Regions from separate parts of the Homo sapiens genome. Here region 2 is linked to region 1. The links come from fine-mapping of genetic effects on gene expression. A gene starts in region 1. The other region holds a variant in brackets. All regions are shown on one strand. Distances are from middle to middle. Region 1 holds the start of PMVK (phosphomevalonate kinase). Region 2 overlaps KCNN3 (potassium calcium-activated channel subfamily N member 3).

Evidence for each region. PIP is the estimated chance that this variant, and not a neighbour inherited with it, causes the effect.
Region 2: its variant is the best candidate, but not a certain one, in a credible set for the expression of PMVK in prefrontal cortex (ROSMAP, PIP 0.89).

Annotation. Positions count from the first base shown.
Region 1 is chr1:154,931,707-154,940,033 of GRCh38, reverse strand. It overlaps PMVK (phosphomevalonate kinase), which reads left to right and starts at 3,315. Exons shown (of 5, transcript NM_006556.4): 1 at 3,315-3,443; 2 at 7,619-7,682. The coding sequence starts at 3,349. RefSeq lists enhancers at 1,925-2,866, 2,846-3,045, 2,867-3,809 and a silencer at 3,766-3,865.
Region 2 is chr1:154,776,236-154,784,562 of GRCh38, reverse strand. The region is part of intron 2 of KCNN3 (potassium calcium-activated channel subfamily N member 3); the gene reads left to right. Among named protein-coding and RNA genes, the nearest start is that of KCNN3, 90 kb to the left of the region's middle. The variant A/G (reference allele first, on the strand shown) is at 3,572.

The sequences.
Region 1 (8,327 bases):
AGGCTGAGATGGGAGGTTGGCTTGAGGCCAGGAGTTCGAGACCAGCCTGGGAAACATAGCAAGACCTTATCTCTACTAAAAATTAAAAAAAAAAAAAAAAGTTTAACTCAGCATGGTGGCACACACCTGTAGTCCCAGCTACTCAGCAGGCTGAAGGTGGAAGGATTGCTTGAGCCCAGGACATCAAGGCTGCAGTGAGCTTATGATCCGCCACTGCACTTCCAGCCTGGGCACAGAGTGAGACCCTGTCTCAAAAAAAGAAAAGAAACAAGCCATGGCTGTCATCTAGGTGGATCATTAACTTTTCTTTCTTTTTTTTTTTTTTTTTTGAGATGGAGTCTCGCTCTGTTGTTCAGGCTGGAGTGCAGTGGCGTGATCTCTGATCTCCGCTCACTGCAAGCTCCACCTCCTGGGTTCACGCCATTCTCCTGCCTCAGCCTCCCGAGTGTAGCTGGGACTACAGGTGCCTGCCACCACGCTTGGCTGTTTTGTTTTTTTTTTTTTGTATTTTTAGTAGAAATGGGGTTTCACCGTGTTACCCAGGATGGTCTCGATCTCCTGACCTCGTGATCTGCCCGCCTCGGCCTTCCAAAGTGCTGGGATTACAGGCATGAGCCACTGCACCGGGCCACATTTAACTTTTTTCCCCTGGGTTGTGGAAGGCAGGCAGAGCATGTTATATAATGTAACCAGTTCCACCAGCTAGTGGACTTGGGAGGGAAGTGCTACTTTGGGGAGTATTTGAGCAAGTGACCTTGGAGGGTTGGGTGGATGAGCATGTGAGTTTGCAGGTTGAGCAGCTTCTGGTGATGACAAAGCCCAGGGTGTGTCCATAGGAGCTGGCCTCTGAGGAGGAGAGGGGGGAAAAGGCTTTGAACAGCCAGGGCCAAGGGATTGAGCAGCGGGGTGTTGGATGGGCTGGCCATGACCGTGATGTCACCGAGGATGATGACAGCAACTCTGTAGAAAAGGAGACTGGGAGCCAGTGGCTGAGTCTCAGAAAATGAGAATGAGGCTGGGTGCAGTGGCTTACACTGGTAATCCCGGCACTTTTGGAGGCTGAGGCCAGAGAGGACTGCTTGAGCCCAGGAATTCCAGACTAGCCTGGCCAACATAGCAAGACCCCGTCTGCATAAAGAAACAAAAGAAAATGAAAATGAACCACCAGGATTGCTGGGCTGCCAGTACTGAGGAAAGCAGGAGGGTAGCGCAGGCAGGTGGCATGAGCCTTAGAGGAACCATAGTTTTCCAAGAGGCAGGATGAGTAATGGTGTGGAAATTAAAATGGGGAGGAAGGGAGGCCATAGACTCAAAGCGGATGCTGAGGGATGAGGGCTGGGAGACTAAAGCCTCCACTTGAGACACCAGTAAGGGACAGTGGAGTTCAGTTGAGGCATACTAGGAAGCCTAGTATGGGGGAAGTTTTTTTTTATTTTTTGAGACGGAGTCTTTTTCTGTTGTCCAGGCTGGAGCGCAGTGGTACAATCTTGGCTCACTGCAACCTCTGCCTCCCAGGTTCAAGTGTTCTCATGCCTCAGCCTCCTGAGTAGCTGGATTGCAGGTGCCCGCCACCACGTCCAGCTATCCAGCTAATTTTTGTATTTTTAGTAGAGATGGGGTTTCACCATGCTGGCCAGGCTGGTCTCGAACTCCTGCCCTCAGGTGATCCGCCTTGGCCTCCCAAAGTGCGGAGATTACAGGCGTGAGCCTGGGGGAAGTTTTCTGATCGCTCACTAGGTATTCAGGGAGCTGGATCTCAGAGTCAGAGAGGGAGGTAAGGGGCGTGCATTGGGTCAGGTGAGGAAAGAGACTCCGGGAGTAAGTTCTGACTCCTTCCATGTGACTCAGGTAAAACAGGAGATGTGGACTTTCCGTGGAGGCCCAAATACATGTTTATTGAAGATGAGCTGGAAAATCTGATTCTGTGTTGAATGACGAAGTGCTAAGAATAAATAACAACCCCTTACATCTGGATGATACTTGAGAACTTACAAAGTATTTTATTGTACCTTGTCATATATTTTCTTCATTCCTTTCTTATTATAACCCTGGGAAGTGGGCCTTATCAGTGGTAAACTCAGAGTGACTTGCTAAGTGTCCAAGCTGGGACTGAAAATCCACTCTGTGCTGCCTTCTAGGGCGTTGATGAGTGCAGTGTTTTCTGGGTTGCTGAAAAAAAACAAAAAAAACCCCAAAAAACAAAAAACCACCTCCTTAAGTCTGTTCTTTTTGCATCTGACCACTCTCCTGTGCCTCTTTTCAACATTCAGGAAATTAATGGTTTCTCCCTAAGTCTCCACACTACACTTTTTCTCTAGTGGAGGCAGTAATGAGTTGCAGGCTCTGTTCTGACATGCTCAGAAAAATGCAGGACGGCAAGTCATAGCCAAAAACAACTCGACGTACTCAGCTGGGGCAACCCGTCACCTACTGCGGGAAGAGGCAGAACCGGGGATGCAGGGAAAGGACAGATTATTCTTATCCTGCCTCTCAAACTTCTGGCTGGGAGCCAGACTTCGGATGAAACCAGGCAATCTCATCTAGGGATTCAACGCTCCCTTACTATTGATGTCACCCACGCCGTTTGCTTCCGAAAACCTTTGGGCCGGAGGCTGCGGCTAGAAAAGCAATCAAAGGTTTCTCGCCGGGCTTAAAGGGCCACATCTTAGTGACGTCTCGGGTTATAAAATCTGCTTGACAATGAAATATCGTGTGCGCGATTCTGCTCCTCCCCCGACATGACGTGGCCAGACACGCCGCTCGCGTCAGGGCTGCCTTACGCCCCCAGGAAGACCCATTCCCACTCTGGGGCGCGCGCAGATTTGCTGTGGCACATGTACTATAACGCACAGGCAAAAGGGCAGTTTCCAAAACGTCTCCAACGTGATCTCACTCCAGAGATTTTTTTTCCTAAAGTTTTAGGGCTGCGCGGAAGGGAACATGGGGTTCACCTCAGGAAATTTCAGACGTCACCCCCCTCGGAGGAAGGTAGTCGCGTCCGGTTCCTCCCCGGGTGTCAGTTAAGCAGGCCAGGCTGTGAGCGAAGGTTCTGGGCGGGGCTGGACTGTTCTAAGTGAGTTCGGGTGGGGGAGCTTCACGAGGGGAGGCTGCTCTGTGAAGGAACCGCCTTTCTCTCCGCGTGTCTCACCCTTTTCTCCCCATATCTGTTTGGACATGAGCTGAGGGCACGGTCGCGGGCGGTCAGCCCTGTTCGCAGCTACGGCGAGGAGGGGCGCGATTGTTCCTTGTTGCCGCTCCGCTTAGTGGCCGCGTCCATTCCGCGCGGTGTCCCGATTTTAGGGGTAGGGAGAAGTGTCAGCTTCAGGCATCGCGAGGCGTGGCGGCCCCATGGCCCCGCTGGGAGGCGCCCCGCGGCTGGTACTGCTGTTCAGCGGCAAGAGGAAATCCGGGAAGGACTTCGTGACCGAGGCGCTGCAGAGCAGGTGTCCGTGAGGCGGGAAAGGTGGAAGGGGGAGCTCTCCGCATCACGTGACACGAGGAGTGCTTTTGGGTGTCACGGAGTGAGCTTTGGAGTACGGGTCGTCCGTTTGCAAGGCAGGAGGAGCACTGGGCTGGGGAAGGTGGAATGCCACCATTACATAAAACAGTAGTCTACACAGGCGAGCCTCAAAGAAGCAGGTGACCACCTCTCCAAAGACCTTCAGCTGCAGGTCTCTCTGAGAAGCATTAATAATGGTTCCTACGAAGGCACTTTCTATATACCAGGCGTTGGATACCAGCCTGGGCAACATGGCGAGACCCCGCCTCTACGAAAAATCCAAAAAGTAGCTGGGCGTGGTGACGCGTGCCTGTGGTCCCAGCTATTCAGGAGCCTGAGGTAGAAGAATCGCTTGAGCCCGGGAGGCGGAGGTTGCAGTGAGGCGAGATTGGCCACTGCACTCCAGCCTGGGCGACAGAGCGAGACCCTGTCTTAAAAAAACAAAACAAAAAACCCTCTTCACCTCTTTGTTAGGTACTGTGTGCCATTATTAGCATCTCCATTTCACAGGTGAAGAAACTGAGGCTCTTAAAAAGTTAAACAGGCCGGGTGTGGTGGTCATGTCTGTCACCCCAGCACTTTGGGAGACAGAGGTGCGAGGATGGCTTGAGAGCCCAGTAGTGGAGACCAGCCTGGGCAACACAGTAAGACCCTAGTCTCTACAAAAAAATGGAAAAGTTAGCCTAGTGCGATGGCGAGCACCTCTAGTCCAAGCTACTCAGGAGGCTGAGGTGGGAGGATCGCTTGAACCTGGGGGCTACAGTGAATTGTAATCATGCTACTGTCCTCCAGTCCTTGCAGCAGAGCCTGAGACCCTGTCTCGAAGTAAAATAAAATAAAATAACATACGAAGTTAACAACAAAAAACCCTTGCTGGTCACAAAGTAAGTGGCAAATCCAGGATTCAAATTCAGCTTTGTGGTTCATGATGGGCATCTCAGCAATTAATATATAATTGAAACAAAAAGAAAAAAAACCCAAACAAATTCAACTTTATCTTGCGCCAAGGACTGGTTTCTTTCTGTTTTATCTGGCTGCCTCCCCAAATAATAATACCTTTTGCACAGTGTTTTCTGTCAAAGCAAGATCTTCTGTGCAGGAGCATTTTGCTGAGACCTGGGCTAGGAGAGCAGAGGTTGGGGAGAAAGTGGGGCTCCTCTCCTCTTGAAGGCCAGTGTGGTGGGGGTACCAGGAAGCTGCTTTTGGGTACCACGGGGGTTCTATGAAGGTGTGGGAGAGCCCAGAGCAGAGGTCACCACCTGAATTTTTCATCACTAAGTATCTCACCACCTTTTCCTAAGTTGCATTTCTCCTCACCTCCAAACCCTGACGTCAAATAGTGGTCCGAAGCACAGGCTCTGGAATTAGACTGCTGGGATGCAAACCCTGGCTCACTGTTGATTAGTGTGTGATCTTGTACACATCTGTCATTCACTCTGTGCCTCATGTTTTTTTTTTTTTTTTTTTTTTTTTTTTGAGACGGAGTCTTGCTCTGTCACCCAGGCTGGAGCGCACCCAGGTTGCGGCTCACCGCAACCTCTGTCTCCTGGGTTCAAGCGATTTTCCTGTCTCAGCCTCCCGAGTAGCTGGGATTACAGGTGTGTGCCACCATGCCCAGCTAACTTTTGTATTTTTAGTAGAGACAGGTTTCACCATGTTGGCCAGGCTGGTCTGGAACTCCTGACCTCAGGTGATCTGCCTGCCTCGGCCTCCCAGAGTGCTGGGATTACAGACGTGAACCACCACCGCACCTGGCCTGCGTCTCAGTTTTGTCATCTGTAAAATGGGGATGATAATAGGGTGGTTGTGGGGATTAAATGAGATAATGTGTGTGAAGGGCTTAGAATAATTATTGGCACCTAGCAGAGGTGCAGGAACTAAATGTTGGCTATATTTATTTTACCAATCTTGGCTTCACTACTTGCAGTGTTGCTTTGGGGGAGTCAATCCTCCTTTCACAACCTCAGCTTCCTCATCTGAAACATGAAAATAAGAACACTTACAGCCAGGGCAACATAGTGAGACCCCCTCTCTACAAAAGATAAAAAAAATTAGCTGGGTATGGTGGTGCATGCCAGTAATCCCAGATACTCAGGAGGCTGAGGTGCGAGGATTGCCTGAGCCCAGGAGTTCAAGATTGTAGTGAGCTGTGATCATACCACTGCACTCTAGCCTGGGTGACAGCAAGACCCTGACTCTTAAAAAACCAAACCAAAACAAAACAAAGAACACTTATCGTTGGGCGCAGTGGCTCACGCCTGTAATCCTAGCACTTTGAGAGGCCGAGAAGGGTGGATCACTTGAGCTCAGGAGTTCGAGACCAGCCTGACCAACATGGTAAAACCCTTCTCTACTAAAAATACAAAAATTAGTGGGACGTGGTGGCGCCGGCCTGTAGTCCCAGTTACTTGGGAGGCTGAGGCAGGAGAATAGCTTAAACCCAGGAGGTGCAGGTTGCAGTGACCTGAGATTGCACCACTGCATTCCAGCCTGGGCTACAGAGTGAGACTCAGTCTCAAAAACAGCACTTATCTTCCTGTGCGTTAAGTGTATTGTGAGCATCTCAAGGCTAGGACAGGAAGCATGTATCATTCACATTTGTATCACCTAGATCCAAATATGGTACCCAATAAATGGTTGGTTAAGCCAGGAGGCAGAGGTTGTGGTGAGACGAGATGGTGCCACTGTACTCCAGCCTGGACGACAGAGTGAGACTCTGTCTCAAAAAAGAGAAAAAAAGAAGGGCCGTGTGCGGTGGCTCACGTCTGTAATCCCAGCACTTTGCGAGGCTGAGGCGGGCGGATCACGAGATCAGGAGTTTGAGACCAGCCTGGCCAACATGGCAAAACCCCGTCTGTACTAAAAATACAAAAATTAGCCGGGTGTAGTGGCGGGCGCCTGTAATCCCAGCTACTTGGGAGGCCGAGGCAGGAGAATCGCTCAAACCTGGGAGGCGGAGATTGCAGTGAGCCGAGATCGCGCCATTGCACTCCAGCCTGGGTGGTGGAGCAAGACTCCGTCTCAAAAAAAAAAAAAAAAAAAAAGGTTGGTTAAGTAAATTAAATAACGAATGAGTTATTTTTATTTTTATTTTCATTTTTGAGATGGATTTTCACTCTTGTTGCCCAGGCTGGAGTGCAATGGGGCGATCTCGGCTCACTGCAACTTCCACCTCCTGGGTTCAGGTGATTCTCCTGCCTCAGCCTCCCGAGTAGCTGGGATTACAGGCATGCGCCATCATGTCCGGCTAATTTTATGCTTTTAGTAGAGACAGGGTTTCACCGTGTTGGTCAGGCTGGTCTCAAACTCCTGACCTCAGGTGATCTGCTGCCTCAGCCTTCCAAAGTACTGGGATTACAGGCGTGAGCCACCACACCTGGCTTTTGTTTCAGTTTTTTAAATTTGCTTTTCTTATTTCATTTTTATGAGACAGGGTCTCACTCTGTCTCCCAGGCTGGCATACAGTGGTACAATCATGGCTCACTGTAGCCTGGAACTCCTGGGCTCAGGAATGCTCCCACCTCAGCCTCTGGAGTAGCTGGGAGTACAGGCACATGCTGCCATGCTCAGCTAATTTTTAAATTTTTTGGTGGAGATGGTATCTCTGGGTCTTATTGTGTTGCCCAGGCTGGTCTTGAACTCCTGGCCTCAAGCACTCCTCCTGCCTTGGCCTCCCAAAGTATTGGGATTACAGGTGTGAGCCACCATGCCCAACCAGTGAATTAATAAATGATATATGTTATGGTGACCAAGTCAGTGGAGACAGATACCTCTGGCTATGAGAGAATTAGTTTAGGGTCTGGGCAATAACCTAATCCAGCTAGAATATTGTGCGCCTGTTCACACTGTAATTAGCACTTTATAGGTTTTACCTGTTAGTTTCAGGGCTCTTTTATATTCTTTAGAGTTTCATAATAATCCTGTGTGGGAGACAGAACAGAAAGTGTTATCCCCATTTTCTGATGAGGAAACAGGATCAGGGACATTGAGACCTACCAAAGTTACATAATACCAGTAGTAGAAATGGGACTTCAACACAGGCCTCTTGACTCCCTTTCTGGGACATGGAAGCTCCTGGAAATTCTAGGCTAACTGGATTCTGATCTCCCTGTCCTGCAGACTTGGAGCTGATGTCTGTGCTGTCCTCCGGCTCTCTGGTCCACTCAAGGAACAGTATGCTCAGGTAGGTGGTGCTTTGTGGCATCCGGTGTGTTGGGCGGGGCCGGCTCCAGGACTTTGGAGCTGTGGCTGCTGCCTGAGTCACTGGCATGATTCCCGTCACCACTGCTGGCAGGGTGGTGGCCAGCTCTTGGTTTTCTGTGAGTGGACCTTTCGGGGGCATTTTCAGCTTATATTTCTTTCCTAATAGCCTCCCTCCCTTCAGAGTGAGTTCAGGAAGGTGTGCCCAGGAAAGGCTGTCGACACTCGAGTTGGCAGCTCTGATGCTGTGTGATTAGTAAGGACCTGCCTGTGCCTCCTCACACCACCCTCTCACTCAGCTGGCCTGACACAGCCCCTAGAACTTTGCTCCTAGAAATTTAGTACAGGCCGAGCACGGTGGCACATGCCTGTAATCCCAGCACTTTGGGAGGCCGAGGCAGGTAGATTGCTTGAGTCCAGGAGTTAGAGACCAGCCTGGCCAACATGGTGAAACCCCATCTCCGTTTCTTTAAAAAAAATTTTTTTTAAAGTAAACAACAACACACAAAAAAGAAATTTAGTCCCAGAAGTTGTCAAAATATATCATTAAGTGAAAAAAAAAAAAAGCCAATACCAAGATATAGAACAGTGTGTAGAGAATGCTACATTTGTCTAAAACTGAAGAGGC
Region 2 (8,327 bases), 160 kb after region 1:
GCACCCAGCCCCACCTGGGAGTCAGAAGGGACCAGCTTAGGCCTGTGGAAGGGTGGGACGCTGGATCTGGAGGTCTCTGGTGAAGAAGCTGAGAAGAGGGAGTGCTTGTACAGAAGATGGAAGGGCGCAAGCTTAGGGGTTACTGGTAACTTGGTTTAGCTGGGATGAGACACCGGGTGTGGCAGGTGATGGGGATAGAGGGGCCAGCTGGTGCCAGGTGGGAAAAGGCCCTTTTGGCCAAGTGCAGCTAGGAGGGTGGACACTCTGGGTTGCCACGGAAAGGTTCTAGAAGGGGAGGTGACATGATTTGGTTTGTATTTTAGAACATTTGCTCTGGCAGCAATGTAAAGATGGCTGGGGTGGAGCACATGATGAGACCAAGGTGTGGCCACAGCAACCCAAGGATTGGCCGGGGTCACTTGGCCTTACTGCTTCAAATATAATTGGTTACAAACTCCCACCCCACACAGGAGGGGACCCGGTGTCTTTCCACTGGTCTCTGGGGGCTTGGAAACTTCCATTTCTCTCTTGACAGCTCATCTGATGCCAAACTCTTTCTGCTGAATTCTCCACCTCCATCCTGTACTTAGTAACCGCTTTAGGCACCCTTCCTGTTCCTGTTGCTCCTCGAGGGACCCATGACCAAGGCCTCTAGGTTAGCTGACATTTCCATGGATCTGGAGCAAGGGGAAGGGGTGAGGTGGTGGTGGCACAACAGATAAGACAGCGCTGAACGCCACATGCTCCTGATCTTACAGTCTCAGCACTGTCCCTGTCTCATGGGTGGTCAAGTCCTCAGTGGGCTCCGGCCTCCCCCTCTCATGGGACTGGCCCAAGGTGCTGCTTAGCCAGCTCCCCTCTCCTTCCAGTCCCACAGCTCACAATCCCCCATCTCCAGTGTTCCTGTTCATTTCTAGGGCACATATATTAAGCCCTGTGTTGGTCTCCTCTGACCCCACCCCAAGCCTGTCCAGAGGAATCTTCTTCATTAGCAAACATGCTGGGGTGCATAAGTGGGCTCCTAAACTAAGATGGTCTCTTCCTCGCTAGGGACCCCATCACCAGGTCTCCATAGAGGCCTGTTCACTGGCGGGAAGAGGAGGAAGGGAAAGATGATAAATGGATATTGTATCTGTGGAAATGAAAGCCGTGGTCTTAGTTCCACAAACATAGCCCAGTCTAGATTACAGATAACGATGTGGGTTTCCCAGGTGGTGTGGACACCAGGGATAGAACCCAGTTTATTTTAATCATATATTGATTCTCTGGTCAGCAAAGATTCTTCTGAGAATGAGCATTTAAAGGGTGGGCTTGAGTTTTCTTTCTTTTCTTTTTTCTTTTTTTTTTTTTGAGATGGAGTCTCGTTCTGTCACCCAGGCTGGAGTACAGTGGTGCGATCTCGACTCACTGCAAGCTCTGCCTCCCGGGTTCAGGCCATTCTCCTGCCTCAGCCTCCCGAGTAGCTGGGACTACAGGCGCCCACCACCACGCCCGGCTAGTTTTTTTGTATTTTTAGTAGAGATGGGGTTTCACCGTGTTAGCCAGGATGTTCTCAATCTCCTGACCTCATGATCCGCCCGCCTCGGCCTGCCAAAGCGCTGGGATTACAGGCGTGAGCCTCCGCGCCCAGCCGAGTTTTCTTTAGAAGACAAAGTAAAGCCCAAACTGGCCAGCCCCCAAATAGAGTGCCTGCTTAGCAGGCTGGCAGGTGAAAGGGCGTGGGACTTGGAAGACACAGAATGCTGCAAGCCCCAGGCAATTGATTGAACCTGTCTTGGTTTGGGTTTCTTCATCTGCTAAATGGATGTATGACTCCCTTACAGGGACATTATGAGATGGCAATGAAATGGTATGTGCAGAATCACCTGGCTCGGCCCACAGTCTGGCTTTTGGGTAATTTTGACACAAAAGGGAATAGCTATGAACTGAATTGTGTCTCCCCAAAACGCATTTGTTGAGGCCCTAACCTCCAATGTAACTGCCTTGGAGAAAGGGTCTGTGGGAGGTAATTAAGTTTAAATAAGGTCATAAGGATGAGGTCTAGTCCTATAGGACTGCAGCTCTAGGAGAAGAGAAAAAGAGAGATCCCTCTCCCTTTCTCTGCCATGTGAGGACACAGTGAGATGGCAGCCACCTGCAAGCCGGGAAGAGAGCCTGACCGTGTTGGCACCCTGATCTCAGACTTCCAGCCTCCAGAACTGTGAAAAAATACATTTCTGTTTTTTGAGTTACCCAGTCTATGATATTTTGTTTCGGAGGCCCGAGCTGTGGTGCATATTTAACCTGTGGGCAGTGTGTTTTCAGAAAGTGGTGACATGGTGCACATGGCCCTGGTGGGAGTGGGTCTGTGGTCTCCTGTCCTTTGAGGAAGCTCCTTCTGTGACATCCAAGGTCCCAATGATCTGGGTCCTGCTACCTTCTTGGTCTCACCTGGTATCATCCCTCACTTCTTTCTCACATTGGTCTTCTTTCTTTTATCTCTCCAACTCTCTAAGCTCCATCCTGCCTTGGGGTTTTTGCACATGCTGTCCCCTCTGTAATGCATACCTTTGCAAGGCTCACTTTGGATTCAGAGGTCCCTTCCATAGAGAGCCCTCCCTGTCCTGGCTGTCTGGGACTTCTCTCATTTCCTTTGCCCTGTCTTATTCTCTTCCTGGCAGGCATCACTCTCTAAAATTAAATGGTTTACCTGTTTAATATCTGTTTTCCTCCCCTGAAATGTAAGCTCTGTGGGGACAGGGGCCTTGTCTACTTGTCTTGCTATATCCCTAGAGCTTACCAAGGACTGTCACATAATGGGGGCTCAACTCATGCTCAATGAATGAATGAGTGAATAAGCTGATCGGGGCAAAGCTCCCTGCCTGTGCATCGAGCACCTCTTGAACCAGACCCCAAACACTTGATTTCCAGCATCACACCTTGTCTCTCCTTACAACTAGAGACCAGCTGGTCCATCCAAAGGATTTCCAGTCAAAGGGTTCTATGGAGAGCATGGGGTCCACTACAGAGACCTAGGCTGGAGGAGGAGGTGAGTGAGTTGATCTTTGAATGTTCTTCTCTACCCTTTCAACTACAACAGCTCTGAATTTGTCTGTTTCCCATGTTGGGCGTACATGAAAAATCTTATGAAAGAAATGGCCCCACAGCCCAGAGAAAATGGAAAACCACAAATTGCATCCAAGTCTTCACATTACACTGAGGAATCTGAGGTCCAGAGACTTGCCACACACAGATGGCCAGAGGTGGGATGCTCTATCCCTAGTGGTGACGTGCTCAGGGATCAAGAAATTCCTGCTACGTGAGTAAAAAATAGTGGCTCGCTCAAATGCCGAAACTTGGCTTTCTTTCTCTGAGAACTGAGGACAGGGGAAAGGATTTATGATCACCACTGGTCTCTGTTAGTCCCAAACAAACTTCAGACTCCATAACCCCCATGAGTGGTCATTACACACTGCAAGAGACCAAAAGTGAGCTCTGGCGAAGCGCTCAGGAGAAGCCTATCCTGGCCGGACCAAAGAGCCACTGTGGGACATCACACATGGCCCAGGGAGTGGGATGGTTTCAGATGAGG[A/G]CAATTTCTTCTTAGACACAGAGCGGGGTAGCGTGGACCCCAACGCCCTAAGCATCTTGTTTATGGTAGAATCATAGACTTCCCTGACAAGGCCTGTTCACTGGCTGGCCTCTTTTAGAGCCACCATTTTTCCACCTTTGCTTCCCAACCCCCACCCGCCTCCCTTTCTTCCTCTAGTTCCATGGAGCATTTGCTGACTGGTAATTTTACCAACCATTGCTGCAAACCCAGAAGTTCATTTCGTCACTGGCAATCAGCTCCTGTCCTCAGGGAAACCTAATTAGGTACTACAGGATTTTTGATGTTGCTTCCATGGTAACCCCCGTAGTAATGGTGTACATGCAGAATATATGCTCCAGGGTGTTTAAATTTATATATGTATATATATATATATAAAATATAAAACATATATATAAATAATATATCTTAAGAAAATCTGTAATTTTTTCTTCTTGCTTTGTTTCTGTGTCGTTTTTTTAAATGATGGAAATTTTCCCGGAAGTTCTTCTCCCCACAGAGAGAGAACAGTACACAAAAAGGCTTTTTCCATTTTCTCTCCTTTAATTTAGAGAAATTCACAGTTGTGCAAGAGTGAAAGTTTTTCAGGTTGGTCAGAAAGTGTCTAAGCAGGAATACGCTCTCCTCCCTGATAGCTGAGAACATTTTAATGACAGATTTTGCTTAAATAAAAAATCAGAAAGGTCTCAAGTCTTTCAAAATAGAATGGGGGGAAAAACGAGTGAATCCAATGAATCGACTCTAAACTTATCCTAAAAAAAAAAAAAAAAAAAAAAAAAGAAAAAAAGAAAAAAGGCAAGCTTCCCTGCATGCCTACCCCTTTGCAGGAAATGTGGGGAGGCCTCGCAAGTCTGAAGCTCGGGCTGTGCCATGTGGCTGCTGGAGGCACTGGGTAGTGTCCTTGTCTCCTTGTCAAGGCAGCCTGTCCCAGGCCCTGCAGAGATTGCAGCTGAACGGCCCTGTCCTGAGGTGTCCAGATGGCCTTCAGCGTTGGCCTTGTGGTGAGCTGGTGATGACATCTTTGCTTGGCGAGACACTCTAACCAGGGAAAGGTCAGACCTGGACTCCCTGAGGTGCAGGTGACAAGGGAGAGGGCCTGTGACACACCCACAGCTGAAAGCCAAGGGCTTCTGAAGAATCCCTGAATAACTGAAAGTGCTTTCTGTACTATCCCTCGCTGGCCGTCCAAGGATGGAATGCCATGCTGACCTCTTTGTTAGCTGCCAGCGAATCCATTTACCCTCAGCATTTGCCAACAAGGTCCACTGCTCCCAGACTCCCTGCTGTTTTTCTCCAGCGGCCCCCCTGCCCATTAATTCTGTTGTGCCCTTGTTCCCTGATTCAGTCTACCAGCTGACTTCCTCACATCTGAGAAAACACTTTGTATGCAAAACAACTAAACTGCTTGCAAAATAACTTTTTAAATGCTCTGAGTTATTCTTTGATATCTCAAATCATGTGTCCATGGGGAGAGTGGGGATGGGGGAATGGCCATCAAGGAATGGCCCTTGACCCTGATCTCCTCCCCATCCAGTCACCCAGTTACTTGAGAAGGACTGGCCAGCAAATATAACTGAGTGGAGTGGGAAGGTGGGGACGGGTGAGGGTTCCTGCTAGGGGCTGTGGCATAAGAATCTAAAAGGAAAATGTTGGGCACAGTAGGCACATGACCTGGCTTTTCTAATATGTGCCAAATATAAGAATTAGTTTTGTTATATATTAGTTTTGTTGCATAACAAAGCACCTCAAAACATAATGGCTTAAAATAATAATTTAGGTCACGTTTCTGTGGGTCAGTCATTTGGGCTGGGCTCAGCTTGGTGGTTCTTCTGCTGGTCTCACCTTGGGTGAGCTTCTGTCATGCAGCTGGTCTAGGACGGCTTCTGATGGCTGGCAGCTGGTACTGGCTGCAGGCTGGGGTGAAAGGGATAGTGAGGCCATGTGTCTATAGTGAGCCTCATGGCGATGACATTTTTTAAACCTCTGCTGTATCACACTTTTTAATGTTCCACTGGCCAAAGCAAGGTACATGGCTAAGTTCAGACGGAAGGGATTGAGAAATAGGCTGTACTGGCCAGGCGTGGTGGCTCATACGTGTAATCCCAGCACTTTGGGAGGCCAAGGTGGGTGGATCACTGGAGGTCAGGAGTTCGAGACCAGCCTGGCCAACATGGTGAAACCCCATCTCTACTAAAAATACAAAAATTAGCCAAGTGTGGTTGTGGGTGCCTGTTATCCCAGTTACTCAGGAGGCTGAGGCAGGAGAATCGCTTGAACCCGGGAGGCAGATGGTGCCATTGCACTCCAGCCTGGGTGACAGGAGTGAAACTCTGTCTCAAAAAAAAAAAAAAAAAAAAAAAAAGAGACAGAGAGAGAGGGAGAGAGAAATAGGCTGTACTTCTTGATTGGAAGAGAGGCAAAGTCACATGTACAGAAGTAAGTGAATGGGATGGGAGGAATCTGTGGCCTTTTCTGCAAGCTGCCCCCTCTGGTGTGTCTGATGCATGCCTTCCGGGCGCTGCTGAAGCCCTATGTAACCCAAGAAGCTTTTCAAATTGCATCCTAATCATGCATGTCTTTTGCTAGAACTACTTGAGATTGTGCACTGATTCATGGGACATGTGTTTGATTCAGATTTATATACCCACAATGGCCTAACCTTGTTGATTCTTAATAATTATTATATTGAACTGAGTTGGGTTAGTTCTCCTTTTTCTCTAATTACAAGCTCCTTAAAGGAAAGTTTGGAATCACTGTTGCATAAAATCTCCCTCCCAGAGCTCTCAGAATTATACTAACGGCTGAAAATCCGGCAAGTTCTCAGAACCACCAGTTAAGTGGTAGAGGGATTAGGCCTAGAGCCACCTCTGGACAGAGCAACTATCTGAGGAAAGAATGGAATTTTCAGGAAACCAGAGACTGTGGTACTGACACATTGCATCTTCAGGTCAGTCATACCCTCAATGAGTGAAATCACTTTTTTAGGCTTAGGAGGCAGAAAGAGTCAGTGACTCGAAGAATGTGGCTTTCCTTTTCCCATTCAGGGAAGCCAGAGTACAAGGAGCAAACCTATGCCTCATCAGGAAGAGACTCGTTTGTCAGCCCTGGGCCTCTGTGGCTTCTCCTGCTCTGGAACAGGCCAGAACAGACCACTTGAGGGCCCACGGTACTCCCTGCCCCATGCCACACTCTGTCCACATCACCTCAGTACTTCTCCAGAATCCATCAGAGGCCAACAGTCAAGCTGGTCTAGAATCAGGGCTGGATGACTGAGACTAAGCCCTAGGGGAGGATAGTCCTTTGTGGAGCCACATACACACTCCCCGAGCCCCTCTGGTCCAGTGCTACTCAAGATCCTGGTTCCAGACTTGCTCTAGAACTTTCTAAGGCTTGGAGGTCACCTGGGACAGTTTATTCCAGGTTGAACCACCCTTTGGGAATAAGAGGGTGTCCCTTCCCATGGTGTGAGATGAATTGTCAGGTCCTTTGTGAGTCACAGGCTTAGGAATGGATTTTCAACAGGAATTTCCATTCTGGGTGGTTAACAAGGGCCACAGGCAATCTGTCCTTTTCTTCATATGACACAGTCATCCGCCTACACACCCCTTTATTCACCAAGATTCTACTGACTGCCCACTCTGTGCCAGGCAACGTCTCAGGCATGGGAGTGGGGTGAGATGAGCCAGGCACGGTTCCTGTCCCTGGAGAGCTCAGGTGCACCGAGAACACAGATGAGGCAGGAGGTGCGAGCAAGAGGGTCTGTGTAGAACCACAGAATTATGGCTTCTTAGAGCAGGAGGTACCTTGGGGATTGTCTAGTCTATTCCCTCATTCCTCAGAGGAGGACGCTGAGCCCAAGAGAGGGAAGATTAGTCCAGGGGCACGCAGTAAGTGGGAGTTACTAATTCACTAAATAAGCATTTATTGAACACCTACTAAGTGCTAAGATCTGGGCTAGGCTCTGGAGATGCCACAGGGAACAAGGAAGACACAGCGCTTGTCTCTTTGGAGCTCCAACTGTGACTGGTTGGGGGGTCCCAACCCTGGTTACATTTTAGACTCACCTGGGAGCCTTAAGAAGAACACCCGTGCCAGGGCTCCACCCCCAGAGATTCTGATTACTTGGCCTGGGGTGGGCCTGGGCCTGGGCATGGGTATTTTTGAACAAGCCCTCCAAGTCATTCTAATGTGCGACGCAAGTAGGTTGAGAACCATGTCTAAGGGGAGAGACAGCAAAACCTCACACATGCAAATCAATAATTGGGATTGTGCTTTGTTAGGAATGAATGGGACCCAGAGTGAGGAAACAGCAGGGTTGGGGTATCTGCTACTTGCTCTGAATCGGGAGGGAGCGAGGCCACACTTGGAGAGCTGTGATTCCAAGGGTCAGAAGGAAGGAAGCATAGAGTGTCCTCACGTGGGACAGCAATGGGATCTTCTGGGACACATCCCACCCTGCAGATGCAGAAAACCTTGCAGCGGAGCCCTGTCTAGCAGAAGCTTTTAACCTGCAGCCTGAAAACTCTCCCCCACCCCCTACTCAAAACACCCGCTCTTTACACACACTGTTTACGAGTGCCCCCAGGCCAGCCAGCTTAATAATCCCTCACATTTTTAGAGCAGTGAGTAAAGCACTGTCCAACTTTTTATCTGTATTATTGGATCCTAACACTAACCCCAGGAGGCAGGCAGGGCCAAGGTCAGTCAGTGTTCCCCTGTTGGAGATGTGGAAACAAGC